4 separate regions of the Homo sapiens genome follow, and regions 1, 2 and 3 are each linked to region 4. Evidence: fine-mapped expression QTL. A gene starts in region 4. Each other region holds a variant in brackets. All regions are shown on one strand. Distances are from middle to middle. Region 1 overlaps LOC100130987 (a long non-coding RNA gene). Region 2 overlaps PITPNM1 (phosphatidylinositol transfer protein membrane associated 1). Region 3 overlaps NDUFV1-DT (NDUFV1 divergent transcript). Region 4 holds the start of RAD9A (RAD9 checkpoint clamp component A).

Evidence for each region. PIP is the estimated chance that this variant, and not a neighbour inherited with it, causes the effect. A credible set is the group of variants that fine-mapping cannot tell apart.
Region 1: its variant is the best candidate, but not a certain one, in a credible set for the expression of RAD9A in skeletal muscle (GTEx, PIP 0.86).
Region 2: its variant is the best candidate, but not a certain one, in a credible set for the expression of RAD9A in tibial nerve (GTEx, PIP 0.83).
Region 3: its variant is the best candidate, but not a certain one, in a credible set for the expression of RAD9A in transverse colon (GTEx, PIP 0.63).

What each region holds. Positions count from the first base shown.
Region 1 is chr11:67,326,606-67,334,341 of GRCh38, forward strand. All of the region lies in intron 2 of LOC100130987 (a long non-coding RNA gene), which reads left to right. Among named protein-coding and RNA genes, the nearest start is that of POLD4, 23 kb to the right of the region's middle. The variant T/C (reference allele first, on the strand shown) is at 3,702.
Region 2 is chr11:67,492,124-67,498,447 of GRCh38, forward strand. It overlaps PITPNM1 (phosphatidylinositol transfer protein membrane associated 1), which reads right to left. Exons shown (of 24, transcript NM_004910.3): 11 at 6,010-6,199; 12 at 5,794-5,901; 13 at 5,399-5,556; 14 at 5,108-5,313; 15 at 4,055-4,225; 16 at 3,315-3,479; 17 at 2,954-3,102; 18 at 2,723-2,833; 19 at 2,121-2,237; 20 at 1,799-1,947; 21 at 1,565-1,714; 22 at 1,287-1,470; 23 at 811-939; 24 at 1-173. Among named protein-coding and RNA genes, the nearest start is that of MIR6752, 5.0 kb to the left of the region's middle. The variant A/G (reference allele first, on the strand shown) is at 4,173.
Region 3 is chr11:67,595,613-67,603,348 of GRCh38, forward strand. NDUFV1-DT (NDUFV1 divergent transcript) reads right to left here. Exons shown (of 3, transcript NR_130935.1): 3 at 7,268-7,736. Among named protein-coding and RNA genes, the nearest start is that of NDUFV1-DT, 7.2 kb to the right of the region's middle. RefSeq lists an enhancer at 5,045-5,094. The variant T/C (reference allele first, on the strand shown) is at 4,413.
Region 4 is chr11:67,388,305-67,396,040 of GRCh38, forward strand. It overlaps RAD9A (RAD9 checkpoint clamp component A), which reads left to right and starts at 3,682. Exons shown (of 11, transcript NM_004584.3): 1 at 3,682-3,774; 2 at 3,857-3,927; 3 at 4,350-4,478; 4 at 5,192-5,306; 5 at 5,387-5,486; 6 at 7,412-7,521; 7 at 7,608-7,717. The coding sequence starts at 3,741. LOC100130987 (a long non-coding RNA gene) reads left to right here. Exons shown (of 4, transcript NR_024469.1): 4 at 3,094-3,383. It also overlaps the pseudogene RNU6-1238P. RefSeq lists enhancers at 2,849-3,764, 3,799-4,303 and a silencer at 3,529-3,898.

The sequences.
Region 1 (7,736 bases), 62 kb before region 4:
ATTACAGCTTTAAAAAATATCTGATTCAGGATTGAATGAGGGATCACTGATTGTATTTGGTCGTCATGTCTCTTGATTCTTCCTTAATTTAGAATAGTCTTCTTGTCTTTTTGTTTTTCATGACATTGACATTTTTGAAGAATCCAAGCTAGTTGGATATCCTTCAATTTGGGTCTCTTTGAATATTTCCTTATAATTAGATTCAGGGTAAGCCTTTTTGCAAGAATACTACATAATACTACAAGAATACTAAGGATATTGTATAACATATTCTTCCTATTTGTTGCATTACTTTAGTCATGTAATGTTGCTTTATCCCATTATTGATAATACTGTGTTTATTTTATTTTTTATTTTTATTTTTCTTTTGAGGCGGAGTTTCACTCTGTCGCCCAGGCTGGAGTGCAGTGGCACGGTTTCGGCTCAGTGCAACCTCTGCCTCCTGGGTTCAAGCGATTCTCCTGCTTCAGCCTCCCTAGTAGCTGGGATTACAGGCATGCGCCACCATGTCCAGCTAATTTTTGTATTTTTAGTAGAGACACGGTTTCGCCATGTTGGCTAGGCTGGTCTTGAACCCCTAACCTCAGGTGATCTGCCCGCCTTGGCCTCCCAAAGTGCTAGGATTACAGGCATGAGCCACTGCACCCAGCCGATACTGAGTTTATTTACTTGGTTAAGATGGTATCTGCTAGATCTCTCTATTGACAAGGAACTCTTTTCCACGTGTAAAAATAAATAACTTGGATGGTAAGTTGAGACCATGCGAATATGCTTTTCCCCAGCAATCTATCAGCCATTGGCCTTAGCATTAATAATCCTTGCCTAATTTATTTATTTCATTGTGTTTGTAATTTTTATTTATTTATTTATTTAATTTTAGAGACAGGGTCTTGCTGTGTTGCCCAGGCTGGAGTGCAGTGGCTATTCATAGGCGCAGCCATAGCATAATACTGCCTCAAACTCATGGGCTCAAGTAATCCTCCTAATAATACGTAATATTTACAGATGGAATTTTTTTTTTTCCGAGACGGATTCTCACTCTGTCGCATAGGCTTGAGTGCAGTGGCGTGATCTCAGCTCACTGCAAGCTCCACCTCCCGGGTTCATGCCATTCTCCTGCCTCAGCCTCCCGAGTAGCTGGGATTACAGGCGCCCGCCACCACGCCCGGCTAATTTTTTTGTTTTTTTAGTAGAGACGGGGTTTCACGGTGTTAGCCAGGATGGTCTCGATCTCCTGACCTCGTGATCCGCCCGCCTCGGCCTCCCAAAGTACTGGGATTAGAGGCGTGACCTACCACGCCCGGCCAGAATATTTTTTTTTTTTGAGATGGAGTCTCACTCTGTCACCCAGGCTGGAGTGTAATGGTTTGGTCTCGGCTCATTGCAACCTCCGCTTCCCGGGTTCAAGCTATTCTCCTGCCTCAGCCTCCTGAGTAGCTGGGGCTGCAGGCACGGGCCACTACACCTGGCTAATTTTTGTATTTTTAGTAGAGACGGGGTTTCACTGCGTTGGCCAGGCTGGTCTCGAACTCCTGACCTCATGATCCGCCGCCCCCGTCAGCCTCCCAAAGTGCTGGGATTACAGGCATGAGCCACCCGGCCTATAGACAGAATCTTTACAGAGGTGTTTTTTTTTTTTTTTTTTTGGATGCAGTCCTGCTCTAACACCCAGGCTGGAGTGCAATGGCGCAATCTCGGCTTGCTGCACCCTCCGGCTCCCAGGTTCAAGCGATTCTCCTGCCTCAGCCTCCCAAGTAGCTGGGACTACAGGCACACACCACCACACCTGGAGATATTTTGTATTTTTAGTAGAGACGGAGTTTTGCTGTGTTGGCCAGGCTGGTCTCGAACTCCTGACTTCAGATAATCCACCTGCCTCGGCCTCCCAAAGTACTGGGATTACAGGCATGAGCCACTGCACCTGGCCTACAGAGGTTTTAAGTTAAAATGAGGTCTTAGGGTGGATGCTAATCCTCTATGACTGGTGTCCTCATAAGAGAAAATTCAGATATAGACACATACAGAGGAAAGATGATGTGGAGACAGCCATCTATAGGCCAAGGGGAGAGAACAGAACCTAGAACAGATCCTTTTCTCATGGCTCCCAAAAGGAATCAGCCCTCTCAACACCTTGATCTCAGACTTCTAGCCCCCAGAACTGTGAGAAAATAAATTTCTGTTGTTTCAGCTACCCAATCTGTGGTTCTTTGTTATGGCAACCTGTCTTAGTCTGTTGTGTGATGCTGTAACAGAACATCTGAGACTGGATAATGTATAAAGAACGGAAATTTATTCTCTCATAGTTCCAAAAGTGTTCAAGTCTTCTGATTGCGTCCTCACATGGCAGAAGGTAGAAGAACAAGAGAGAATGAACTCTGTGTCTTCACATGGCAGAAAAGCAGAAGGGCAAGAGAGAGTGAACCCACTCCCACAAGCCCTCTTCATAGTGATATTAATCCATTCATGAGGGCGGAGTCTTCATGATCTAAAAAATCTTAGAAGACCCCACCTTCTAGGCTGGGTGCGGTGGCTCACACCTGTAATCCTAACGCTTTGGGAGGCTGAGGCGGGCGGATTACCTGAGGTCAGGAGTTCAAGACCAGCCTGGTCAACTTAGTGAAACCCTGTCTCTACTAAAAATACAAAAATTAGCCAAGCTTGGTGGCACATACCTGTAATCCCAGCTACTCAGGAGGCTGAGGCAGGAGAATCGCTTGAACCTGGGAGATGGAGGTTGTAAGGAGCTGAGATTGTGCCACTGCATTCCAGCCTGGGCAGCAGAGCAAGACTCCATCTCAAAAAAAAAAAAAAAAAAAAAGACCCCACCTTCTAACACTATTGCGTTGGGGACTGCGCTTTCAACACATCAATTTTGGAGGACACCTTCAGACCATAGCACAACTCCAGCAAACTAATGTAGACCTATGCCCAACCATATTAATAACTACTTTCAATATAAACACTCCAATTTAATACTCCAACTAAAAGACAGCAGCCTGGGTGACAGAGTGAGACTCTGTCTAAAAAAAAAAATCAAGATCCAACTATATAATACCTAAAAGAAATATACAGTTGACCCTTGAACAGCATGGGTTTGAACTGCCTGGATCCACACAAGTTCCTTCCCTCCCCTCCCCTCCCCTTCCCTTCTTTTCTTTTTCCTTCTTTCTTTTCTTTTTTTTTTTTTTGACGGAGTCTTGCTCTGTTGCCCAGTCTAGAGTGCAGTGGTATGACCTTGGCTCACTGCAACCTCTGCCTCCCGGGTTTAAGCAGTTCTCTGCCCCAGCCTCCCCAGTAGCTGGGATTACAGGCACCTGCCACCACACCTGGCTAATTTTTTTTGTATTTTTAGTAAAGATGGGGTTTCACCATCTTGGCCAGGCTGGTCTTGAACTCCTGACCTCGTGATCCACCCGCCTTGGCCTCCCAAAGTGCTGGGATTACAGGCGTGAGCCACCATACCCAGCCAGGTTTTTTTCAATAAATATATTGGAATTTTTTTTTAGAGATTTGCAACAATTTGAAAAATGTACAAACAAACCACATAGCCTAGAAATATTGAAAAATTAAGAGAAAGTTCGGTATGTCATGAATGCACCAAGTATAGCTACTGGTCTATTTTATCACTTACTACAATGAAATATAGATAAATCTATTATAAGAAGTTAAAATTGGCTGGATGAGGTGGCCAAGACCTGTAA[T/C]CAGAGCACTTTGGGAGGCCAAGCTGGGAGGATCACTTGAGGCACGTGCGTATAGTCCTAGCTACTCAGGAAGGTGAGGCAGGAGGATCACTTGAGCCCAGGAGTTTGAGGTCACAGTGAGCTGTGATCATGCCACTGCACTCCAGCCTGGGCAACATAGCCAGACCCTGTCTCTACAAAAAAATTGTTTAAAAAATTAGCTGGCCATGGTGGTACACACCTGTAGTCCCTGTTACTTGGGAGATTGAGGTGAGAGAATCGCTTGAGCCCAGGTTAAGGTTGCAGTGACCCATGATCATGCCACTGCACTCCAGCCTGAGTGACAGAGGGAGACCCTGTCTCAAAAAAAAAGAAAAATTTTGATGCCGTATTAAATCATAACTGCATAAAATTAGTACATACTGTACTACTGTAATAATTTCATAACCACCTCCTGTTGCTGTTGCATTGAGTTCAGTTGTTTCGAGTATCCACTTAAAATGCTGTGACACTAATCATCTCTGCATGAGCAGTTTGTCTATCTAGTAACTTGCCTATTGCAGTAAAAAGGTGATCTCTTGCAGTTCTCATGGAGTTTTCATTGTCTCGTGCAATGCCATCGACCTTGAATTTCAGCATAGGACCCATATGAAGTGCCACTGTTAATGCTGGGAGCACTCCAGGAAGCAGAGAAAAGTTATGACATTTCAAGAAAAATCTGAATTGCTTGATATGTTCCACAGATTGAGGTCTGTACCTATGGTTGCCCACTATTTCAATAGTCAGTGTAAGGACTATTGTAAAAAAAAAAAAAAAAAAAAATAAAGGAAATTGGTGAAGCTATACCAGGAGGTGTGAAAATCTTGCACTTTTTGCAAAATAACTTTTTATCTCATATTGAAAATTCACCTTTTATGTGCAGGGTTGCTATAAGAAAGGAGTACATGTAGACTCTAATATGATGTGAGAAAAAGTGAAGTCATTATATGACAACTTAAAGCAAAAGGAAGGTGAGGATCTAACGCTAGAGAGCTTAATGCCATCAAAAGATGGTTTGGTAGTTTTAGAAAGAGGTTTGGCTTTAAAAATGTCAAGAGAGGCTGGGTGCGGTGACTCATGCATATAATCCTAGCACTTTGGGAGGCCAAGATGGGAGGACTGCTTGAGCCCAGAAGTTTGAGACTAGTCTGGGAAACATGGCAAAACCCTATTTCTACTAAAAATCCTAAAAATTAGCCAGGCATGGTGGCATGCACCTATTGTTCCAGCTACTTGGGAGGCTGAGGTAGGAGAATCACCTGAGTCCGAGAGGTCGAGGCTGCAGTGAGCTGTGTTAGTGCCACCGCACTCCAGCCTGAGTGATGGGAGTGAGATTCTGCCTCAAAAGAAAAAAAAAAAAGGTCAAGATAACAGGAAAAGCACCTTTTACCTTCCAAGAGACAAAAGATGAGTTCTGAGATGCCAATAAGAAAATAACTGAGGCCCAGCGCGGTGGCCTACACCTATAATCCCAGCACTTTGGGAGGCCGAGGTGGGTGGATTGCTTGAGTTCAGGAGTTTAAGACCAGCCTGAGTAACATGGTGAAACTCTATCTCTACTAAAAAAAAAAAAAAAAAAAATACAAAAAATTCACCAGCTGTGTTGGCAAATGCCTGTAGTCCCAGCAACTCAGGAGGCTGAGGTGGGAGGATCACCTGAGTCCAGGAGGTTGAGGCTATAGTGAGCTGTGATTGTGCCACTGTACTCCAGCCTGGGCAATGGGAGTGAGAACTTGTCTCAAAAAAAAAAAAAAAAAAAAAAAAGAGGAGGAGAAAAGGTACCTGCCTGAACAGGTTTTTAATGCAGAAGAAAAGAGAAAACCACAAAAGACCTTTCTTAGTAAGGAAGAGAAGTGAGCAGTAGGATTTAGGAAAGAAAAGAGACTAACTCTATTGTTTTGTGCAAATGCAGTCAGGTTTATGATGAAGGCTGCCCTTATCTATAAATCTGCTAACCCCCAAGCCGAAGGGAAAAGAAAAACACCAGCTGCCAATTTTTTGGTTGTACAACAGGAAAGCCTGGACAACGAAAACCCTTTTTCTGAATTGATTTCATTGATACTTTGTCCCTGAAGTCAGGATGTACCTTGTCAGTAAGGGGATTGCCTTTTTTTGTTGTTTTTTGAGATGGAGTCCTGCTCTGTCATCCAGGCTGGAATGCAGTAGCATGATCTCAGCTCACTGCAGCCTCCACCTCCTGGGTTAAAGCAATTCTCCTGCCTTGGCCTTCTAAGTAAGTGGGATTACAGGCACGCACCACTATGCCCAGAGAATTTTTGTATTTTTAGTAGAGACAGGGTTTCACCATGTTGGCCAGGCTGGTCTCAGACCCCTGACCTCAAGTGATCCGCCCGCCTCGGCCTCCCAAAGTGCTGGGATTACAGGCGAGAGCTACCACACCTGGCCTGGGATTGCCTTTTAAAATTCTCTTGTTATTGGACAATGCCCTTGGCATTGAACCCCATCAGTTCAATACCGAAGGTGTCAAAGTGGTCTGCTTGTCTCCAAACACATCGTCTCTAATTCAGTCTCTAGATCAAGGGGTTCGTAAGGACCTTAAAGGCTCATTACACATATACATGGTACTCTATGGAAAGGACTGTCAACTCTATGGAAGCGAACCCTGATAGAACATCGTGAAAGTCTGGAAGGATTATACCACTGAAGATGCCATCATTGTTATGGAAAAAGCCATGAAAACCATCAAGCCTGAAACAATAAATTCCTCCTGGAGAATACTGTGTCCAGATGTTATGCATGATTTCACAGGATTGATGATAAAGCCAAGCAAGGAAATCATGAAAAAGATTGTGGATATGGCAAAAAAGATGGGGTGAAGGGTTTGATATGGATCTCAGAAAAATTGAAGAGCTTAATAGACACCACCCAAGACGAATTAACAGAAGATGACTCGATAGAGATGAGTGCTTCTGAACCTGTGCCAGATGAAGAAGAAGATGTAGAAGCAGCAGTGGCAGAAAATAATTAACATTAGTCTAGAAGAAGGGTTCTGATTATTCAGGACCACTTTTGACATTTTTTATGACATGGACCCTTCTGTGATGCAGGCACTGAAACTCAATCAAACAGTGGAAGAAGGATTAATACCATATAGCAGGGGTCCCCAACCCCCAGGCCACCGGAACCAGGCCATATAGCAGGAGGTGAGCAACGGGTGAGCAAGCGAACACAAGCTTCATCTGCATCTACATCTGCTCCCCATCACTTGCATTCCCACATAAGCACCACCTCTTGTCAGATCACAGGAGAGCGAACCCCATTGTGAACTGTGCGTGTGAGGGATCTAGGTTGCCAGCTCCTTATGAGAATCTAATGCCTGGTGATCTGTCACTGTCTTCTGTCACCCCAGAAAGGACCATCTAGTTGCAAGAAAACAAGCTCAGGGCTCCTACTGATTCCACATTATGGTGAGCTGTCTAATTATTTCATTATATATTACAATGTAATAATAATAGAAATAAAGCACACAATAAATACAAAGTGCTTGAATCATCCCGAAACTACCCCCTTAACCCCATCTATGGGAAAAAAGTCTTCCATAAAACTAGTCCCTGGTGCCAAAAAGGTTGGGACTGCTGCTATATAGAAACATTTTTAGAGAAATGAAAAAGCAAAAATGTCAGACAGAAGTTACAATGTATTTCCATAAAGTTACACCAGAATGTGCCTGCCTCTCCTGCCTCCCCTTCCACCACTTTTGCCTCTGCTGCCCCTGAGACAGCAAGACCAACCATTCCTCTTCCTCAGCCTACTCAACGTGAAAGCGACGAGGATGAAGACCTTTATCACGATCCACTTCCACTTAATAGTAAATATACTTTTATGATTCCCCTGCCCTCCCCTCCCCTCCCCTTCTCTTTTTTTGAGACAAGGTTTCATTCTCACCCAGGCCAGAGTGTAGTGGTGTGATCTCAGCTCACTGCACTTCAGCCTCCTGGGCTCCCAGGCTCAAAGGATCTTCCCTCAAAACTCCATCTCCAGCTGAGCATGGTGGCT
Region 2 (6,324 bases), 100 kb after region 4:
TGGCTGGGGCCCCTCGAGCGAAGCAGCTGGCTCTGTTTGCGCAGGAAGTCCACGGGGGCAGCCACACCATAGCTGCTCTTGCCCAAGGCAGCTCTCGGGGGTCCCGAGGAGGCATGCGAGTGCGAGCCCGCTTCCAGCTGGCCCAGGTGGGCCACATAGCCGTCTGACAGGAACTGTGGGCAGAGGTAGGCAGCGATGAGGGGGTGCTGGCCAAGGGCCCACACGCTGCCCTCCACGGTCCTCCAGAGGCACCTGAGGCAGGCTGGGGGACTGGTGGCAGGCTTGGCACAGCCTGAGCTGAAGCCTTCTCAATAGATAGGACCCCAGGCTGGGAGCCAGGGCACCTTGGCTGTGCTCCTAGCTCTGCCCTTCTCTGGGCCTCAGTCTCCTCATCTGGAAAATGGGGTCTTAGAGGAAAAATAACAGCAGCCAATGTTTAGCCAGCACTTGCTTTGTGCCCAGCCCTGTGCCTGTTGATGTGATCTTCATAAGCTGACATGGGCAGTGCCATGATCATTTCCATTTACAGATGGGAAGCTGAGGCTCAGAAAGGTCACAGTGGAAAGCCATGGCCGAGTGGAACCAGCGCCTAGGGTCTTGAGCACTTTCCAGTGTGGGCTGTCCCCTCTGGCTTGCCTGGCAGCTGGCAGCTCAAGCTGCTCATGGCCCTTGTCCTCGGAGGATCCCAGGTTCCCTGGAGGCCGGTTAGGCCTTCTCACATCTTCCCCAGAGTCCGTGGTTCCCAAGGCCTGGGACTGAGGGCCCTGCCCCCTGGTGGGGTCCTGTTCCTGGCCTTCACTTGGGCCTCACCTGGCACTGCGCCTGTAGCTTCCGCACGGCACGGCCCACGATGTAGGTCTGGCTCGGGGACAGCCCCAGCGCCGCGTATACAGCCACATCTTTGGGAGACCCATAACCGGCCACGATGTTCAGTTCTACCTGTGGCGGGAGATGCCAATCAGCCGCCCCAGGGGTGGAGCCGTGCAGCTGGGGGCGGGGCCTGTTGGGCTTCCCCAGATTGTTCTGGGGGTGGGTCCAGGCAGACGGAGGCGAAGACAGGTCCCAGTCCCACGGGGACAGGGGCGGGACCAGCTGCATCTCCCTAGTTGCCCCTAAGTACACGGGGCCCCTCAAACTAGGGGAGCAGGACCGTAGCGGGCCGCTGCAGTCAGGCAGGGCCCGGGCCGATCCAGTTGGGAACAGATGGGCCTCCGCCGATCCGGGGGTGGAGGGTAAGGGGGAGCGGGGGCGGGGTCAGGACCCGGAGCCTCCCCCAGCCGCCGCACCTCCTGCACCAGGCTCTGCAGAAACATTGCCTTCTGGCGTAGTGGGTCGTGGGTGAGGCCGTCGCAGAAGGAGACGACGCCGTGGGGGAAGTTGTGCTGCGACAGCCATGCCACCACGCGGTGCTTCTGCATATCCGGCCGGCCTGTGACATACACGATCAGGTAGCCGGAGTCCTGCCAGTGCCTGTGGGGCGGGGGCAGCGGTCAGCTCCGCTGGCCAGGGGTGAGGGGCCGGTCACCCCGGTGAAATGGGTGGTGGTGGCAGTGGCAACTCCTACCTGACCACGTCCACGGCGCCAGCTCGCACCTTGGGGTCGCTGCCCATGATGGAGACGCTGGCGGTGAAGGAGCCGTCGATGCTGAAGACCACAGCCTCCGTGCCGCGGGCCACCACAGTCAGGCAGCATTCGGCATAGGTGTGGTCGCCCCTGCGGCCCACGGGGCGGGGCGTGAGTGGCGCGGGGCGAGGCCTGGCGGAGCCCTCCCGCAGAGGCCCGGCCAGCCGCGCTCACCTGACCACCATGCGCACGGGGTAGACACCAATGCCCAGCGCGCGTTCTGGGGGAACTGGGAAGGTGAGGCGGCCCGAGCTATTGGTGACTTCGGTGCCAAAGTGGATCCACTTGCCCGACAGCGGCTGCGTCATGATGTAGACATCCACCTGGAGGGGAGAAGGGGCGGGAGGTAAATGGGGGCCCTGCGTGGAGGTGGGCAGAGGCGGGGCTGTCGTCGGGGATGGGTGGGTCTAGGGGCACAACCACCAGGGACCAGGAGCTGTTCCGAGGACAGGAGATGGGGCCATGGGACCAGGCGACAGGGCCTCTGGGTCCTGACCTTCTCTCCAGTGAGCGTGACGACGTCCAGGGGCCCGTACATGAAGCGCCCGCTTAGCACCTGGGGGCGGCCCTCGCACACCACCGTGTCGCTCGCCCGGTGGTTGGAAGTGACGTTCTAGAGGGAGGAGAGGGCGTGAGTCCGCGGCCAGCAAAGGATGGGGATGCTTGGGGAGGGGGAGCGGGTGAGGATCCACACGCAAACACCGGGGTGGGGGCCTAGAGGCGGCGGGGCATTGAGGGAAAAGGGCAAGCCCGGGGGGCGCACTTTTGTGGACCCCGGCCTGAGAGCCTGTGTGTGGGCCGCGCCTCCAGGGGCAGAGCTGTGACAGGACGGGATGCAGAGGATGAGGCGAGGTGGGGACCAGCGCAGATCCAGACCCTAGACCCAAACTTCCCGCAGAGGGCGGGGAGACCAGCGGTTCCCAGGGGCGGGGCTGGGGCAATGAGGTGGGGCCAGGACCCCAGGGGCGGGGCAGGACTGGGAGAGAGTTGGATCGGCTAGGACCCGAGGAGGGGGGTGCTGGGGGGAGGGGCGGGGCCTCTCTGGTGAGTGGGCGAGAGTGGGCGAGTGGGCGAGGGGGCGAGGGGCAGGGCACCTACCCGGATCTTGACCTGCGTGCGTTTTCGCTGCCACTTCTCCCTGGGGAAGGCCGGGCTGTAGATGGACGGCTCCTCGCATTCCGCCAGCTGTGGCCGCTCCTTCTCGATCACCTGCACGGGACAGGGGGCGAGGCCTCTGTCTCTTAGGGGAGGGAGGGCTGCCCCTCCCCCGGCCCAAAGCAGCCCATCCCCGTCCCATTCTCATCTCCCATTCCATATTCCCAGGCCCACCTGGCGCAGGATGAACGCCACCACGTCGGCGGACTCCCAGTAGCTGGCGTGGAAGAGGTGGGGCAGCGTGACGGTGGGAAAGGCGGTGAGCGCCTCGGGGCAGTACAGCGAGTAGTCGATCCGCTTGGTCCCCCACCAGCGCTCCAGGACTGCGCGGCCATGGCAGCGAGTCAGGATGGCCTCCTGCCCCACACCCATCTGCCTGGGCGCTGGGTGCTCTTCCCTCCCCCCTTTTCACCCAGCCTGCTCTTTGCCAAGTCCAGGCTGTGTGCTGGGGGAAAGGGTTTCTCAGCTGGGCTTCGGAGGTGGAATACGGGCCTCCCCCACCCCCAGGCTGGACTGCCTAGGCTGGCTGACTTACTCTTAACCACCTCACTGGTGGTGCTGGGGGCGGCTGGCTGGGCCGGGGGGTCAGTGGCCAACTCACTGCCCTTCCAGAAGGCACCGCTAGTAGAGGTGGGTGTTGAGGGCACCAGCATCTCCAGCTCCTCCAGAAAGAGGCTGGAGTGCGTCTGCAGAGTGTCGGCTGGGGGAAGGAGGGCAAGGTCAGCAGGGGCCGGCCAGGTGGCTCTCCTGTCTTCTCACCCAGGGCTCCCCGCACCTCTGCCATCTTCCTGTGGCCCCTCTGGTCAGGTCCTGGCTGAGGCTGCACTGTGGCATTCTCTCCTCTCAGCCCAGTGGCCAGCTGCACTCCTGCCAGAATGCCTGTTGCCACCGCCCCAAACGCTGCACACCTGTGCCCAACACAGGCCCGCTTGGCCCATACATACCTGGGCATGCCCCGCAATAAATGTCTGCAGCACACCCCACACAGATGCAGCAGCGCACACATGCTGGCTGCTTGTATGGCAGCACACCAGCATCATGCTGCCAGGGGGCACCCTCTCTAGCTTGGCTAACCACCCCCACCCAACTTCTAGGCCCAGGAGGTCAGAGGGTCCTGGGGATCCAGACCCCCCCAGGGGGAAGGAGCGCCTGGTCCTGGGAGTGGTGGCCTGAGAGGTTTTCCATCGTCTGGGAGCCTCCTCATGTCTTCTGCTACCTCCTCCCTTCCTGTGTGTGCCCTCCTCCTTCTCCCCTTTATCTTGTTTGGGGGCGTACCCAGCAGCAGGGATGAGCCATCTCCCAGGGGGAACTTCTGGTAGCGGGGCACGGTCAGTGGGGCGATGGCCTGGAACTTCGGGGCCAGCAGGGGCTCGAGGCGTGAGGCGCAGGGGTC[A/G]GCCGCGTGGAAGAGGTTGTAGATCTGTTCACAGGCTGGGCGCATCTGGGCTGCTGGTACCCAGAAGACAGAGAAAGATTGTGGGGTCAGGGTTTCAGCTGGGCACTCTGGGAGGTAGGGGGTGTGGGAGCAGCACCCTGATGTCTGGTGTGACCCCGAGCCAGCACTTCCCAAACTGCACTCCCTGGGAAGTCAGTAGGGCCCTGCTTAAAGTGAGACAGGGGCTGGGCACCGTGGCTCATGCCTGGAATCCCAGTACTGCGGGAGGCAGAAGCAGATGGATCACTTGAGGTCAGGAGTTCGAGACCAGTCTGGCCAACATGGTGAAACCCCGTCTCCATTAAAAATACAAAAATTAGCTGGGTTCAGTGGCTCATTCCTGGAATCCCAGCACTGTGGGAGGCAGAGGTGGGTGGATTACCTGAGGTCAGGAGTTCGAGACCAGCCTGGCCAACATGGCAAAACCCTGTCTCTACTAAAAAAAATACAAAAATTAGCTGGGCATGGTGGCAGGTGCCTGTAATCCCAGTTACTTGGGATGCTGAGGTAGGAGAATCACTTGAACCCAGGAGGTTGCAGTGAGCAAGATCAGGCCACTGACACTCTAGTCTGGGTGACAGAGCGAGACTCTGTCTCAAAAAAAAAAAAAAAGGCTGAGAAGAGGGCAGCGGCTTCGATTTGCTGCTGTGGTGTCTGATTGACCCCTTCTAGTGCAGAACATCCCACGGGTGTGAAGCTCCTCCCAGTGGCTTTGGGAGACTCACCCTTGGCGAGTCCCTTCTTTCTGGGCCTCAGGTTCCCCTTCTGTAGCCAGGCCTTTGAATTAGTACAGTGGGGAAGTTGCTCATGCCTCGGATGAGAGGGAAGGCCAGAGGAGGTGGGGAAGGAAGGGGCAGACAGAGACTAGAGGCGCCCCCGCAGCCCCTAGGACTCACCCTCCAGGGCGGGCATCACAGTTTTGCGCAGAGCCAGCACCAGGCCCAGTGGGGAGCCGAAGAGGAAGAAGCCAGAGACCTTGAAGTCAAGGCGGGCAGTGCTGCTGGGGCCGTCAGGTGCCTCGGAACTGGCAGCGGGTGGGCAGAAGGCCGTGCTTGCCCGCCGGGGCTCCCAGGAGGAGGTGGTTGCGGGGGCTGCCTGAAGGCTGTGGGGGAGGAGGGGTGCTCAGTGCTGCTGCCTCTGTAGTCCATCATGTGCCCAGGGTAGGGGTGATGGGGCAGGGACGTCACCTGTTCTGAGAGCCCTCGGGCTCAGGACTGGCCATGTCGCTGGGGATGCGCTGGGGAGGCAAGGCCGAGGGTTCTGGGCTGCCCCGACCCAGGCCTTCCACACCATCTGCCAGGGGGTCCCGCACTGGGCCAAACTCCGGAGAGAGCAGCTCATTGTTCTGGATGGAACAGGAGACAGAAACATTCTTAGGCCTGGGGACCATTCGAATTCTACTTACTTAGAAGTGAGGAGCGAGGCTTGGGGGTTGGGCAGAGCAGAATTCCAGAGAAGACATGAACTGGCAGGGCAGCAGGGGGCCTGCCTGCTGGCAGAGGGGTGGCATTCCAGGGGGCAGAGACCTAGAGCCAGAGAGGGCCTTTCCGCTCCTGAGGAGGCCGGGTTTGGCTATACTGACCATGCTCCCACGGCGGCTGCTGCCCCGACTCCCGGTGCCCGCGTTAGCACTGTGGCAGAGTGCATCAAAGCCCAGGATGCCACCAACACCATCTCCAATCAGTGCGACCTGGGTGGGAGCAGGGGCACCATCAGGAGAGGCCTTGTCCTCACCCAGGCCAGACTACAGTGGGGGCTGCAGTGGAGGGCAGCAGATGGACTGTCCCTAACCGCTGACCTGCCCACAGAAGCCGGCACCCTCAGGTGAGCGCAGGAAGGCTGAGTAGGCCTGGTTGGTGCGGGCAATGACGGTGGCCACGGCGCCCTGGTAGCGGGAGGATGAGGTGGCCAGCAGTGGCAGGGCAGCCAGTGGAATGTGGTCTTGGGAGCGAGACAGGCTGTCCCCATCGTGGCTGTAAGGGCTCAGGCTGTAGGAGGGGGAAATGTGCGTGGGTGAGGGGCTTCCAGACCCACTCCTGCCATCCAAGTCCCCTGGGCCTGCTGGCAGGCCCTGGCTCTGTGGGTCCTCTGTGGGGAGCGTTAGCCCCAAGAG
Region 3 (7,736 bases), 210 kb after region 4:
ATCTGCCCACCTCGGCCTCCCAAAGTGCTGGGATTACAAGTGTGAGCCACCGTGTCCGGCCACAATGTTTTTCATTGTCTTTCTTTCTCCAGCTTTGTTTATTCATTTGGCTTTATCTATCTCATATATATGATATGATATGATACACACACAGATGCATATATATACGTATGCGTATATATACACACACATACACGAACGTATATAATCATATATATTTCTTAATGGGATATATATATATAATTTTACAGATGGGGTATTGCTCTATTGTCCAGGCTGGAGTGCAGTGGCAAAATCAGAGCTCCTGGGCTCAAGCAATCCTCCTGCCTCAGCCTCCTGAATAGCTGAGACTACAGGCATGAACCACCATGCCCAGCTAATTTAAAAAAATTTATCAGGCCAGGCATGGTGGCTCATGCCTGTAATCCCAGCACTTCAGGAGGCTGAGGCAGGTGGATCACTTGAGCTCAGGAGTTTGAGACCAGCCTGAGCAACATGCCGAAACCTCGTTTCTACAAAAAATACAAAAGTTAGCCAGGTGTGGTGGCACAGGCCTGTAGTCCTAGCTAGTTAGGGGGCTGAGATGGGAGGATTGCTTGAGCCCGAATTCTTTTTGGTTTCTCCAATTTAAGTGTCTCCCACTTTTCTGACTTGTAATCATTAAGAACAAGGATTGCTTTGTTCCTAAAGCCCTACAAGCAGGATATGGACAACTGGATTAAACTTCAGAGAAAACCCCTCATGCCTGATGTAGGGAGCACTTGAGGAGTTTGCTGAAATGCCTTCTGCCATAAACAGAGATATTAAAACCACAAATCAGGAAAATATGCTTCAAGCTTCAATCTAGGAATCTTGATTAACTGACCCCTGGACTCAGAGACTATATTTATAGTTTGTTCTGGTTATCTCCCTGAGTGAGAACTGAGCCCATTCAACCCAGATTCATATGTTTGCAAGGTGTCTTTGAAAAGGAGAGAGAGAGAGAGAGAGAGAACAAGGTGAAGACACACTTGTTCCCGGCTGCCCAGGCCTGGAAGTGACACACTTCATTTCTGCCCCATTTGGATGCAAGAAGACTGAGAAACAGTTTAGCTCTGTGTCTGAGAAGAGGAAATGAGTTTGTGATATCTAGCCAGTCTCTATCACATACAACCAACCCATGCTTTAAAAATGAAAAATAAAATAAAATAAAAATATAAAACAAATCCATGCCTATCTTGGAACTCAGTATGTACTAGCAGTGGTATCATAAATAAGTTTGAAAAGAAGAGTTATTTAGATAGCATTAGTGAAACTGATTCCACCTATTAAGAAAAATTACTGGATCCTTACCTCACACCATATACAATAAAATCTAAACAGATCAGTGGTTCTCGAGAGGAGGCAATGTTGTCACCCAGAGGATATTTGGTAATATCTGGAGACATTTTTGTTGTCCCAACTTGTGGGGTGCTATTGACACCTAGGGATGCTGCTCAACATCCTCCAATGCACAGGGCAGCTAGCAAATAAAGCCCCAGTGGCCACAGTGTCAAGGTTGAGAAGCTCACAGCAAAGCCCCAAATGGCCATAGTGTCAAGGTTGAGAAGCCCTGCACTAGGGTTCACCTACACTTGAGAGAGAAAAATAAAATACTAACAGAAAAAAATAATTAAAGAAAGTTTCTTATGACCTTGGGCTAGGAATAGATTTCTTTTTTTTTTCTTTTTTTTCTTTTTGGAGTTTAAAACTTTTTATTTGGAAATAATTTCAAAGTTATAAAATGTTGCAAAAAAATTTTTTAAACTACCAAAAACAGCCATATTTACCGTTTACCCAGATTTACCTATTCAACATTTTATACCATTCACTTCATTATTTTCTCTCTCTCTCTCTTTTTTTTTTTTATTGATCATTCTTGGGTGTTTCTGGCAGAGGGGGATTTGGCAGGGTCATAGGACAATAGTGGAGGGAAGGTCAGCAGATAAACAAGTGAACAAAGGTCTCTGGCTTTCCTAGGCAGAGGACCCTGCGGCCTTCCGCAGTGTTTGTGTCCCTGGGTACTTGAGATTAGGGAGTGGTGATGACTCTTAAAGAGCATGCTGCCTTCAAGCATCTGTTTAACAAAGCACATCTTGCACCGCCCTTAATCCATTTAACCCTGAGTGGACACAGCACATGTTTCAGAGAGCACAGGGTTGGGGGTAAGGTCATAGATCAACAGCATCCCAAGGCAGAAGAATTTTTCTTACTACAGAACAAAATGAAGTCTCCCATGTCTACTTCTTTCTACACAGACACAGCAACAATCTGATTTCTCTATCTTTTCCCTGCCTTTCCCCCTTTTCTATTCCACAAAACCGCCATCGTCATCATGGCCCCTTCTCAATGAGCTGTTGGGTACACCTCCCAGACGGGGTGGTGGCCGGGCAGAGGGGCTGGCCCCCACCTCCCTCCCGGACGGGGTGGCTGCCGGGTGGAGACGCTCCTCACGTCCCAGATGGGGTGGCTGCCGGGCGGAGGCGCTCCTCACTTCTCAGACCGGGCAGCTGCCGGGCGGAGGGGCTCCTCACTTCTCAGATGGGGCGGCTGCTGGGTGGAGGGGCTCCTCACTTCTCAGATGGGGCAGCCGGGCAGAGACGCTCCTCACCTCCCAGATGGGGTCGCGGCCGGGCAGAGGTGCTCCCCACATCCCGGACGATGGGCGGCCGGGCAGAGATGCTCCTCACCTCCTAGACAGGATGGCGGCCGGGAAGAGGCGCTCCTCACTTCCCAGACTGGGCAGCCGGGCAGAGGGGCTCCTCACATCCCAGACGATGGGCGGCCAGGCAGAGACGCTCCTCACCTCCCAGACGGGGTGGCGGCCGGGCAGAGGCTGCAATCTTGGCACTTTGGGAGGCCAAGGCAGGCGGCTGGGAGGTGGAGGTTGTAGCTGGCCGAGATCACACCACTGCACTCCAGCCTGGGCAACATTGAGCACTGAGTGAACGAGACTCCGTCTGCAATCCCGGCACCTCGGGAGGCCAAGGCTGGTGGATCACTCGCAGTTAGGAGCTAGAGACCAGCCCAGCCAACACAGCGAAACCCCGTCTCCACCAAAAAAACCGAGATAGATTTCTTAAATAAGGCCCCTAAATGAATGAATTTAACTATATCAAAACAAAAGATTTCTCTTTTTAAATTTTTAATGGATACATTGTACTTGTACATATTTATGGAGTACAATTTGGTGGTTCCATATACATATATGTGTTTTATAATGATCAAATTAGGTAGGCTGGGCATAATGGCTCACATCTAGCATCCCAGAACTTTGGGAGGCCCAGGCGGAAGAATTGTTTGAGCCCAGGAGTTCAAGGTCCCCCTGGGCAACATTATGAGACCCCATCTCTATAAAAAATTAAAAAATTAGTGGGGTGTGGTGGTTCATGCCTGTGGTCCCAACTACTTTGGAGCTGAGGTGGGAGGATTGCTTGAGCCCAAGAGGTCAAGGCTGTAGTGAGCTATATTCCCATCACTGCACTCCAGCCTGGGTAATAGAGGGAGATCCTGTCTCAAAAACAAACAAATTAGGATATTTAGTGTGACCATCACCTCATGCATTTATCTGAAGTTTTCTCTTGTACAATGATCATTATTGTTTATTAGATTATCAGATAGATGATAAAGGAAATATTTGCAACATTTGACAGGAAGAGGGAGGACCTGTGGTTTTTAATGGTGGAGCTGGGATTCCCACTAATCCTTCAGAATACCCCAAAAGCCACAAAGACCATGAAAACCAAAACACACATTCCATCTAAATACACACTTTATCTCTTATGAAAGTAGGAGACTCCCAGCACTTTGGGAGGCTGAGACAGGCAGGTAACCTGAGGTCAGGAGATAGAGACCAGCCTGGCCAACATGGTGAAATCCTGTCTCTACTAAAAATACAAAAATTAGCCGGTCCCAGTGGCATGTACCTGTAATCCCAGCTACTCGGGAGGCAGAGGCACGAGAATCACTTGAACCTGGGAGGTGAAGGTTGCAGTGAGCCGAGATCGTGCCACTGTACTCCAGCCTGGGCGGCGACAAAGCGAGACTCTGTTTCAAAAAAAAAAAAAAAGAAGAAGAAGAAAGAAAGAAAGTAGGACACATCTCAAGTGACTACAGTTAAGAGCATCTGTGCACCAAGTAACATATCTGGGCACCTATACAACAAAAGCTCACAGATAGACAAGGACTCTGGCAGTTTTAAATAAGATTTCAAACTCTGCCATAGGAAAGCAGAGAGGCACCACCCTTCAATTGCTCTTGGGACATTTACTATAATAATTATGTATTATGCCTTAAAGGAAATTTTAGAACATTCCAGGGATTAAGAGGGGTGGGGAGAGGGAGAGAAATAGTACAGATGACAGTCTTTCATTATGAGGCAATAAAATGAAAAA[T/C]AACAAAACCGGGAAACAAAATCCCCCTAACCCCTGTACATTTATAAATCTTTCTTAAAATGACTCCCGTCAAAGAAGAAATCAAAACCAAAATTGCAGAACATCTAGCGAATGATGATAAAGATGCACTATATGTAAGAACTATTGGTCTACTTGACTGGATTGCTATGGCTTTAGAATCAGTCTTGCTATCTGCCAGGGCGAAACCCACCACCCACCCCATCTTCTTCTTCAAAATTGTCTTGGCTATTCTTGGCCCTTTGTTGTTCTATATACATTTTGGTGTCAGCTTTCCCACTTCCATGAAAAGCCCTGGTGGGATTTTGATGGGAATTTGCAGTGAATTTACAGATTAATTTGAAGATGTGACACTTTTATGATATTAAGTCATCCACCTGGTGAAAGCCCTGTGAACCAGCCTGGCTCCCCCATCCTCCCAGCAGCTGAGGGGCCAACTGGCGGGGACTGTGGGTGCACGATAAAGGAAGGAAGCCATAAATACTGGCCATGGCCTCATGACCGGCTGCAGCCACAGAGGTCCCCTTCAATGTCCTTTGTGGCTTTGAGTTTTGCATAGTGGGAGGAAATTGTCTTTGCAAGGTGCAAAGTGGCCCCAGGAGGAAGAAAATGTAATAGAAGACAACTGCTCAACCTGTTTCTGATCATAAAAACTCAACAGTCTTTTTCTTTTTCTTTTTGCTGATTTATAAGATGAGGCCTGACATTTCTAAAACCTGAACCATTGAGGAATGGGGAAGACGAGTTTCACATTTCTCACAGCTTAGAAGGGGCGTTGAAGGGGTGTGTAAGCTTTTCCTGGTGTCTGTCATCCCAGATAGCCATCAAGGACTATGAGGAGTGAAAAAGAAGAGACTAGAGCTTTCGTGTTAAGGGACAAGAGCTTTTGTGTTAAGGGACAAAGGGGGTATAGGCAAGACTTCAGGTGACAACAGGGGGATGGGCAAAGGACCAATGCAGAAACAATCGTTACCTAGACCTGATCTTCTGGGTTTCCGGATGTGAGTTTGCTGCAGGGAGGCGCCAGCAGGACCGGACCCAGGGGACTGATACCGGTACCTGGGGTCTGTGTATGCCCAAGACCTCCCTGGTCCTCCGTGATGGAAACTGCAGACCATGTCTAATGCATCAGGATGGTATATGCCAAAGAGGGACCCTGAGACCCTGGCAGAGTGATGGAGAGTGGCCACACCAGGATGGCGGCGCGGAGGGTATTCCATGGCCCCTGAGCTGGGCCAGCAGGGAGAGAGGCCTGGGCCTGATGCGTCATTCATTGTGCTGCTTGCCTTAAATACTTTCACCTTGTCCTTTGCGTGCCCCACCAGCCGTGACTGATAGACTTTACTCTTTCCAGTTTAAATTCATGGAAAAAAAAGATTTCCAGTTCAAGACAGCAGGATACAACCTGAAACCCACTATGTCTTTCTCAAACACATCAAGACCAGAGAAGAAAAACTAGAAAAACTTTTTTTTTTTTTTTTTAAGACGGAGTCGCTCTGCCACCCAGGCTGGAGTGCAATGGCACGATCTCGGCCCACTGCAATCTCTGCCTCCCGGGTTCAAGGAATTCTCCTGCCTCAGCCTCCCGAGTAGCTGGGATTACAGGCACCTGCCACCATGCCCGGTTAATGTTTTGTATTTTTAGCAGAGACGGGGTTTCACCATGTTAGCCAGGATGGTCTCGAATTCCTGGCCTCAAGTGATCCACCCGCCTCGGCCTCCCAAAGTGTCGGGATTATAGGCGTGAGCCACCGCACCTGGCCTGTATTTCCTATTTAGCATTCTTTCCCTGTATTTCTTCTTTACTTTGTTTTCTTGTCTTCAGTTGAATTGAGGTTTTTGTGCTAGTCCCTTCTCCCCTACTATTGGAAGTTACACATTTTACTTTTATTTTTAGTGATTACTCTTAAATTTTTAGATCATACCTAAATTTCATGTCCAAGCAAAAGCTAATATCTCTATCCCCCTTCCTGAATATGAAGTGAAAACAAAAACAGAGTATATGTCCAGGCGCAGTGGCTCATGCCTGTAATCCCAACACTTTGGGAGGCCGAGGTGGGCGGATCACCTGAGGTCAGGAGTTCGAGACCAGCCTGGCCAACATGGAGAAACCCTGTCTCTACTAAAAAAAAAAAATAAATAGCCGGGCACGGTGGCGCATGAGTGAGCCGAGAGTTCACGAGTTCGAGAAAAAGTAACAATTTGGCCAGATTCGGTGGCTTACGCCTGTTATCCCAGCACTTTGGGAGGCTGAGGTGGGTGGATCACCTGAGGTCAGGAGTTCGAGACCAGCCTGGTCAACATGGTGAAACCCTGTCTCTACTAAAAATACAAAAATTAGCCAAGTGTGGTGGTGTGCACCTGTAATCCCAGCTACTTGGGAGGCTGAGGCAGGAGAATCGCTTGAACCCAGGAGGCAGAGGTTGCAGCGAGCTGATTGCACCACTGCACTCTGGCCTGGGTGGAAAGAGCGAGACTCCATCTCAATAAATAAATATTAAAAAAAAAATCACCTAGAAACAGTAACAGGTATTGTCAGGATGGTCATAAAATGTTATTACTTTCTTCTTGCTTTTTTGGTATTTCTTCAATTTCAAACACAGGAAAAAAATTGATGTTTTTCATTTTTCAAATATAATATTTGATTACAATATTGAGTAAGTCCCTCCCTTGAGAAGCTCTATGCTGGGGGTTGGGGAAGATCTGATCGTGCCTTACTCACACTGGGCCTGACAATAGGTGCTCAAGATAGTTGTATGGGGTTGTTGTAGGACCAACAGGTTTGTATGCCCATATGTATGCAGTAACAGACCAATTACACTGAGATAGCAGGGTTTGCAGCAGAGAAAGAGTTTAATGATTGCAGGGCACCAAGTTTGGAGATGGGAGGAGACCTTCAAATCCATCTCCCCAAGGAGTTTTGGACTGAATTTTTTAAGGAGATTGTGGAGGGCAAGGGGCTGGAAATTTGGGATTGTTGATTGCCTAAGCAAGGGGCATGAAATAATTGGGATTGGAAACCGCATTCTTTGGTGAGCCAGCTCCTCATGGGGACCAGTTGAGTCAGTAGTTTTATCAGCATGCAGGATCTGAAGGAATACTTCAAAAGGAAAATTTAGCATTTCATGTTCAAGTTGTTATTTATACAGCAGTTAAGGGCAGCTATAATCTAGGGTCTTTGTCACTCCGGGACAACAGGCACCAACCAGCCATGAGGAAGCAGGTCAGAGAGCAGCTGACCTCATGATGAATACTGAGTATGCTGCAGGCTTGGTTTATTTTCATCTTTTCCCCCTACTTCTTCCC
Region 4 (7,736 bases):
CTGCAGTGCAGTGGCGCTATCTCAGCTCACTGCAATCTCCACCTCCTGGGCTCAAGTGATCCACCAGCCTTGGTCTCCCACAGTGCTGGGATTAAGCATGAGCCGCCGCGCCCGGCTGGTTTACACATTTTTAAATGTAACACCTATTTATTCATTATTTACTGAGTGCCAGACCCTGTGTGAGGTACATACAGCAACAAACAAAACAGACATGGATGCTGGGTGTGGTGGCTCACGCCTGTAATCCTAGCACTTTGGGAGGCTAAGGCAGGAGGATCGCCTGAGCCCAGGAGTTCAACTCCAGCCTGGGCAACAGAAGGAGACCTTGTCTCTAACAAACATTTAAAAAATTAGCTGGCTGTAGTGGCATGCGCCAGTAGCCCTAGTTACTCGGGAGGTTGAGGTGGAAGGATCGCTTGAGCCTGGGAAGTTGAGGCTGCAGTGATCTATGATCGTGCCACTACACTCCAGCCTGGGTGACAAAGCAAGAACCCATCTTAACAAACAAAACAAAACAGAACAAACAAAACAAAGCCAAGGCCGGGTGCAGTGGCTCACGCCTGTAATCCCAGCACTTTGGAAGGCTGAGACGGGCAGATCAGTTGAGGTCAGGAGTTTGAGACCAGCCTGGCCAACATGGCAAAACCCCATCTCTAATAAAAATACAAGAATTAGCCGGGCGTGGTGGCACACACCTGTATTCCCAGGTACTTGGGAGGCTGAGGCACAAGAATTGCTTGAACCCCAGAGGCGGAGGTTACAGTGAGCCGAGATCGCGCCACTGCCCTCCAGCCTGGGCGACAGAGCAAGACTCTGTCTTCAGAAAAAACAAAAAACCAAAAACCAGACATGGTTCCTGCCCTTGTGAGGCAGACACACTAGTGAGGAAGACAGATGTTAAACAGGCAAACACACGCATGAAATAACGTGATAAGTGCTGTGGCTAAAACAGGGTCTAGCTAGAGTGTAATGGGATGCTGGTGGGGGCAGAAAAGACGGCACTGAGCCTGGAGGAAGAGAAGCACCGCCACGTTAGAAGGGGTAAGACGATGCCAAGTGGTGGGGACAGCTAAGGATGTGCTAAAATCCCCAGGTGGAAAAGGAAGTGGAGGGTTCAGGGAGCCCACAGGGTTGGCATGGCTGTGCAGGTGATCAAGGGGAGGCCACAGGTGGAGAAATGGGTGGCGGCGGCTCCTGCAGGTTCAGGGCAGAGTTTGGATTTTATGGCAACCACTGGAGTGTGCAAACACGGGAGAGGCATGACACAATGGACATTTTAGGAGGGTCACTTTGCTGCTGTATGGAGAGTGGCCTGGAGGGGGCAGGGTGGAGGCAGGAGACCACTGAGAGCTGTTACAGTCATCCAGGTGAGAGGATGGTGGCCTAGGCCTTGGAGATGGAAGAGGAGGGCAAAGTTGCCACCTGTTAAGTTGCCACCTGTTTGGGAAGCAGAGTGGTCAGGACTTAACTGAAAGACTGTGTAGGGGTGAGGGCGAGCATGAGGTCAAGGATGACTCCAGCATACTGAGCCGGATGCCCAGGGACAGGGGCACTATTTCCATGGATCCCCCGGGAAGGGGAAGGGAAGAGTAACCTCCTCCCCCAAGGCTCCACGGAAGGGGCAAGGGCTGGTGACGAGGGGAGCAGAAGGGAAGGAGAGGGAGAAACAAAGTGTATGCATGTATCCAAATGTGTACAATTATTATGTATCAATTCAACTCATTTGAAAGTGGGTCTGGAGAGCAAGGGTGGCAGAGATAAATATATCTTCTGCACTACCACAGGACCTGAGGGGCAAGGCACGGGCAGGCCCTGCAGGAATACAGGGATGCCCTGGGCCCTTCCAAGAACTACCAGAGCCTTGGTACTGTGGGGAGAGTAGGGGTCAGTGAGTTTCTCCAGGACTCCCTTACATTTTACACACGTGGACCCGGAAGCCCAGGGGAAGGGGAATACCTTCCAGCTGATGCATCCCCACCTGGCACACAGTCTGGTTTTTTTTTTTGAGATGGAGTCTCACTCTGTTGCCAGGCTAGAGTGCAGTGGCGCGATCTCGGCTCACTGCAACCTCCGCCTCCGGGTTCAAGCAATTCTCCTGCCTCAGCCTCCAGAGTAGCTGGGACTACAGGCGCGTGACAACATGCCCGGCTACTTTTTGTACTTTTAGTAGAGACGGGGTTTCACCATGTTGGCCAGAATGGTCTGGATCTCTTGACCTCGTGATCCGCCCGCCTCGGCCTCCCAAAGTGGTAGGATTACAGGCGTAAGCCACCGTACCCGGCCAGTCTGGGGTCTTTTAAAAATACAGACCCGGGGCTGGGCGCGGTGGCCCATGCCTGTAATCCCAGCACTTTGGGAGACCGAGGCGGGCGGATCACTTGAGGTCAGGAGTTCGAGACCAGCCTGGCCAACATGGTGAAACCCGTCTCTACTAAAAGTACAAAAATTAGCCAGGCGTTGTGGCAGGCGCCTGTAATCCCAGCTACTTGGGAGGCTGAAGCAGGAGAATCGCTTGAACCTGGGAGGCGTGATCGTGCCACTGTACTCCAGCCTGGGCGACAGAGCGAGGCTCTATCTCAAAACAAACAAACAAAAAAACCCCACACACACACACAAAAAACAAAAAACAGGCCGGTGCAGTAGCTCACTCCACTTTGAGAGGCCAAGGCGGAAAGACAGCTTGAACCCCACAGTTGAGACCGGCCTGGGCAACATGGCAAGACTCCGTCTCTACCCAAAAAAAAAAAAAAAAAAAAAGGGCCGGGCGTGGTGGGTGTGCCTGTGGTCCCAGATACTCAGGAGACTGAGATGGGAGGATCCCTTGAGCCCAGGAGTTCCAGGCGGCAGTGAGCCGTGTTCGCGCCACTGCACTCCAGCCTGGGTGACAGAGCAAGAATATGTCTCAAAAAACAAACAAACAAAAAAAGGCACATAACCACGATCTACCCTCGTAAAACGTTTCCAGAGCGTCCCAGCGGTGCCCCTCATCATCTGGCGGCCCCTACGCCTCTCTGAGACTCACAGACCTACTCCCCTCTCCAGGGGGCGGAGCCCACACCGCTGAGCATTTACTCTTGTTCTTCCCTCTGCCAGGGGCACCGTTCTACCCCTTTCTGCCTGGAGAAACTGCCGTTTTTCCTTAAAGGATCCTCGAAGCCGGAAGGAGCAGCCACCTCCCACTCCCGGCTGCTGCAAGCAAGCTGCTTTGACTTCTTTCTAGAGTTGGGGATTGCTGCTGGAGTCCGAGTCTCAGGCCCAGAGTGGGTGCGATGGTCTTGCTTGCACCCTGTATCCCCCGGCAGACGCCCGGGAACTCTACTAAGTGGGTGACCCCAGAGAGCTCGCCCCCACACTCCGACTCCGAGTCCAGCACTCGGTCCACTGCACAGGGACCTCGCGCCCCACAGCTGCGTCCTCTCTGACCTTCGCAATCCGGTGCGCGGCCCGCGGAACGCCCCGATCTCCAGGGGCACGGAAGGCCGAGGCGTGCCGGGGGAGCCAGGAGCAGCTGGCTGGCGGGCGCCGCGGGCCTCCCCGGTCACGTGACACCCCGGACAACGTGCGCCGTCACGTGACGGCAGAGCCTGTGAGCGTTTTTCTCACGTGACGGAGGCGCCTGCACGTGGACCAATGGGGAGGCGGGGGCGGGGCCGGCAGGGGCGGTGCGCGGGAAGGGACCCCGGACCCGGAGGTCGCGGAGAGCTGGGCAGTGTTGGCCGCTGGCGGAGCGCTGGGGCAGCATGAAGTGCCTGGTCACGGGCGGCAACGTGAAGGGTGAGTGCAGGTCGGCCTGGCAGCGGCGGTGCAGCAGCCGCGGAGCCGCCAGCCTAACCCCCTTCCGCTCTTCTCCCCGCAGTGCTCGGCAAGGCCGTCCACTCCCTGTCCCGCATCGGGGACGAGCTCTACCTGGAACCCTTGGAGGACGGGGTGAGGGGCTAGGGTGTGGGGGGCGGGTGGGACTCCAGCCGGGAGCGGGTAACCCGGACTAGAGTCTCGCCCCCACTAGGCGGGATGACCGCTGGCAGATTTGTCGGCAAAGTTTCAGTTTCTTAGTCTGGCGGCTGTCATCTTCCCAGGCCGGTGTGTGAATTGAGGAAAGCTGTCCTGCGAGCTCCCAGGGGGTGACGTGCACTTAGAGAAACTCGGGGAAGGCCTGGGTGTGCGACCCCTCCTCTGCGGCAGCAGCGCCGGGGCCGACTCTGAAGGCTTCCATGGGGAAAGGAGGGTTTTTCAGCAGGTGGTGGCGGAGCGGGAGGACGATAGGGCAAGTGTGTGAGCAGAAGCAGCCAGAGGGCTGGGTCTGTGGCTGCCCCCTGACCACGTCCCTCTCCCTGCTCTTCGTGGCCCAGCTCTCCCTCCGGACGGTGAACTCCTCCCGCTCTGCCTATGCCTGCTTTCTCTTTGCCCCGCTCTTCTTCCAGCAATACCAGGCAGCCACCCCTGGTCAGGACCTGCTGCGCTGTAAGATCCTGATGAAGGTGAGGCCCTTCCCTCAGCAGTGGCACTACTCCACCCCAGGAATCTCCACCAGCTGTGCCTCTGCCCTGGGGTACTCAGTAGATGCTAAGTGGGGAGAGAGACACGTGCAAGCCCAATCCATGCAAAACACAGGGAGGGCCATGGTAAAAGCATCACAGCGGGGACCTGAGAGGGTGGTGACGCTCAAGTTCGTCAAGAAAGGTAAGCACGTCTTTTGGCCGGGCGCGGTGGCTCACGCCTGTAATCCCAGCACTTTGGGAGGCCGAGGCAGGCGGATCACGAGGTCAGGAGTTCGAGACCAGCCTGGCCAACATGGCGAAACCCCGTCTCTACTAAAAATACAAAAATTAGCTGGGCGTGGTGGCACGCGCCTGTAATCCCAGCTACTCGGGAGGCTGAGGCAGGAGAATTGCTTGAATCCGGGAGGTGGAGGTTGCAGTGAGCTGAGATCGCACCACTGCACTCCAGCCTGGGTGACAGAGCGAGACTCCATCTCAAAAAAAAAAAAAAAAAAGGTAAGCAGGTCTTTCAAGGCATTCCAAGCATAAGGAAGAGCATGAATGAGGCCTAGAAGGATGCCAGTGCCCGAGGTGACGTGGGAGCCCTTTTCCCAGAGTTACATGCTGGGCCCATGATGGGTGTGGGCCTGCATGGGACAGGAGAGCTTGTTGCAGAGATGTGATGCTAGGCTGAGGTGTCTTATCCCATGCAGTCTTTCCTGTCTGTCTTCCGCTCACTGGCGATGCTGGAGAAGACGGTGGAAAAATGCTGCATCTCCCTGAATGGCCGGAGCAGCCGCCTGGTGGTCCAGCTGCATTGCAAGTTCGGTGAGTGGGCAGCCGGCCAGCCAAGGGGTGCCTCAGCAGGGAGGTCGGCGAGGCCCACTGAGACCCTATCGCCCATCCAGGGGTGCGGAAGACTCACAACCTGTCCTTCCAGGACTGTGAGTCCCTGCAGGCCGTCTTCGACCCAGCCTCGTGCCCCCACATGCTCCGCGCCCCAGCACGGTGAGCACACCCCTGCCCTCAGCTCAGCCCCGGGTCTCTCTCTTCCTTCTTTGGGGCCCCAAGGGGTTGATTTTAGAAGGTACCTCTTTCATTTTCCCTACAGAGTTTCTGTGAACCTCAAAGACATCCCATGGCCCGCTATGTGCTCAGGTCCTTACCTGGCTCTTTAAAGGCAGACGGTGGCATGGAGGAGGGGCAGGCGCCTCCTTGCTCCATTCTCCTTACTGTTAGGAGCCTGCATTCTCCATCCCAAAGGTCTGACTTGACTTTCTGGCTGCTCAAACCCATTCCAACTCCTCCTCTAGGGAGCACATTTCTGGCCTGCCACCAAATCTCTTGTCTGGCTTGAGTAACCTTGAAGGTCTGCCCATAACCTGTGGCTCAGAGGCTCAGACCCCTTCTCCGGCCTGGGCATCCTTCCAGAGGTGTTCCCCATTCAACGGCAGCCTCTTTTCCTGACTGCCCAGGATCGAGGAGTCCCCAAGGCCAGGGCAGGAGGCTGGAGGGAGGCTGAATAATCAGCTATGGGGTGGAGCTGTTCTGGGCAGTCCGAGCACTGGGGGCTGTCTGGGGCCAGGGAAATGGGGACTCCAGTTGAAGCAAACGTCCCTGGCGAGGACCAGCTCAGAGAGGAGTGGGCTCTCCCCCTGCTCCATGCTGGTCACTGCTTGCATTCAAGTGGCCCAAGGTCCTGCTCATTTCTCAGGGTGACTGAAGATCCCTTTGGGTCCTGACATCTGTTTCCCCAGGTTCTTTTGAGCCAGCACTGCTCAGAGCTCTTTTGGGTAGTGAGAGACGGGGGCCAATTCCTTGGTCTGCATTTAGGGTGGTGTCTTTTTTTTTTTTTTTTGAGACAGAGTTTCGCTCTTGTTGCCCAGGCAATGGCACGATCTCGGCTCACCACAACCTCCGCCTCCCGATAAAAGTGATTCTCCTGCCTCAGCCTCCCGAGTAGCTGGGATTACAGGCATGCGCCACCATGCCCGGCTAATTTTTTGTATTTTTAGTAGAGACAGGGTTTCTCCATGTTGGTCAGGCTGGTCTTGAACTCCCGACCTCAGGTGATCTGCCCGTCTCAGCCTCCCAAAGTACTGGGATTACAGGCGTCAGCCACCACACTCAGTCTCTTTTTTTAAAAATGAGCAATTGTTTCTCTCGTTTTGTTTTGAGATAGAGTCTCGCTCTGTCACCCAGGCTGGAGTGCAGTGGTGCAATCTTGGCTCACTGCAATCTCTGCCTCCCGGGTTCAAGCGATTCTCCTGCCTCAGCCTCCCGAGTAGCTGGGATTACAGGCATGCACCACCACGCCCGGCTAATTTATATATGTTTAGTAGAGACGAGGTTTCACCATGTTGGCCAAGCTGGTCTCGAACTCCTGAACTCAAGTGATCCACTGCTTCGGCCTCCCAAAGTGCTGGGATTACAGGCATGAGCCACTGTTTTTTTTTAAATCCTTGCGCAGGGGCCTTGCTCATCTTTTGCATGCTTCAGTTTTAGTGTATGTGCTGCCGAAGCAAGCACTCTGTCTCATGAATAATTTCAAATATATGTAAAAGCAGACGCAGCTCCCGTCCCCACTTGACTTGAAACAATTTCCAGATGTGATTTCATCTGTATGTCAATGGGTATCCTTAGAGGATAAGGATTTCAGGGCTCTTTCTGAAGGCCGGGTTTGTAGGGTGGCCTGAGTGCCACGTCCTGCCTCTGGGCCCTCTCCCTGGTCTGCATGGTCAGGTGCCGCCTGCCAGGTTTGAGCAACCACTGCAACCAGTCCCCTCCCTGCCACCTTCTCTGGGCCTCATCCACGGTGCGCTAGGCCTGCGCACATCCGTGCGTGTGCATGTGTCACCCCCACCTCAGGTCCTCCGAGAGCAAAGCCCTGGGCAGGGCCAGGCATTTCGGGTAATGCTCCACCCTGTTCACAGGGTTCTGGGGGAGGCTGTTCTGCCCTTCTCTCCTGCACTGGCTGAAGTGACGCTGGGCATTGGCCGTGGCCGCAGGGTCATCCTGCGCAGCTACCACGAGGAGGAGGCAGGTGAGGGGGCTGGACGTGGCCTGGGACAGCAGAGTGGCAGGTGGGAGAGGGGCGGGGCCCAGGTTACTCCTGTTCTTCCCCAACAGACAGCACTGCCAAAGCCATGGTGACTGAGATGTGCCTTGGAGAGGAGGATTTCCAGCAGCTGCAGGCCCAGGAAGGGGTGGCCATCACTTTCTGCCTCAAGGAATTCCGGGTGAGGTTCCTCCCAGGCG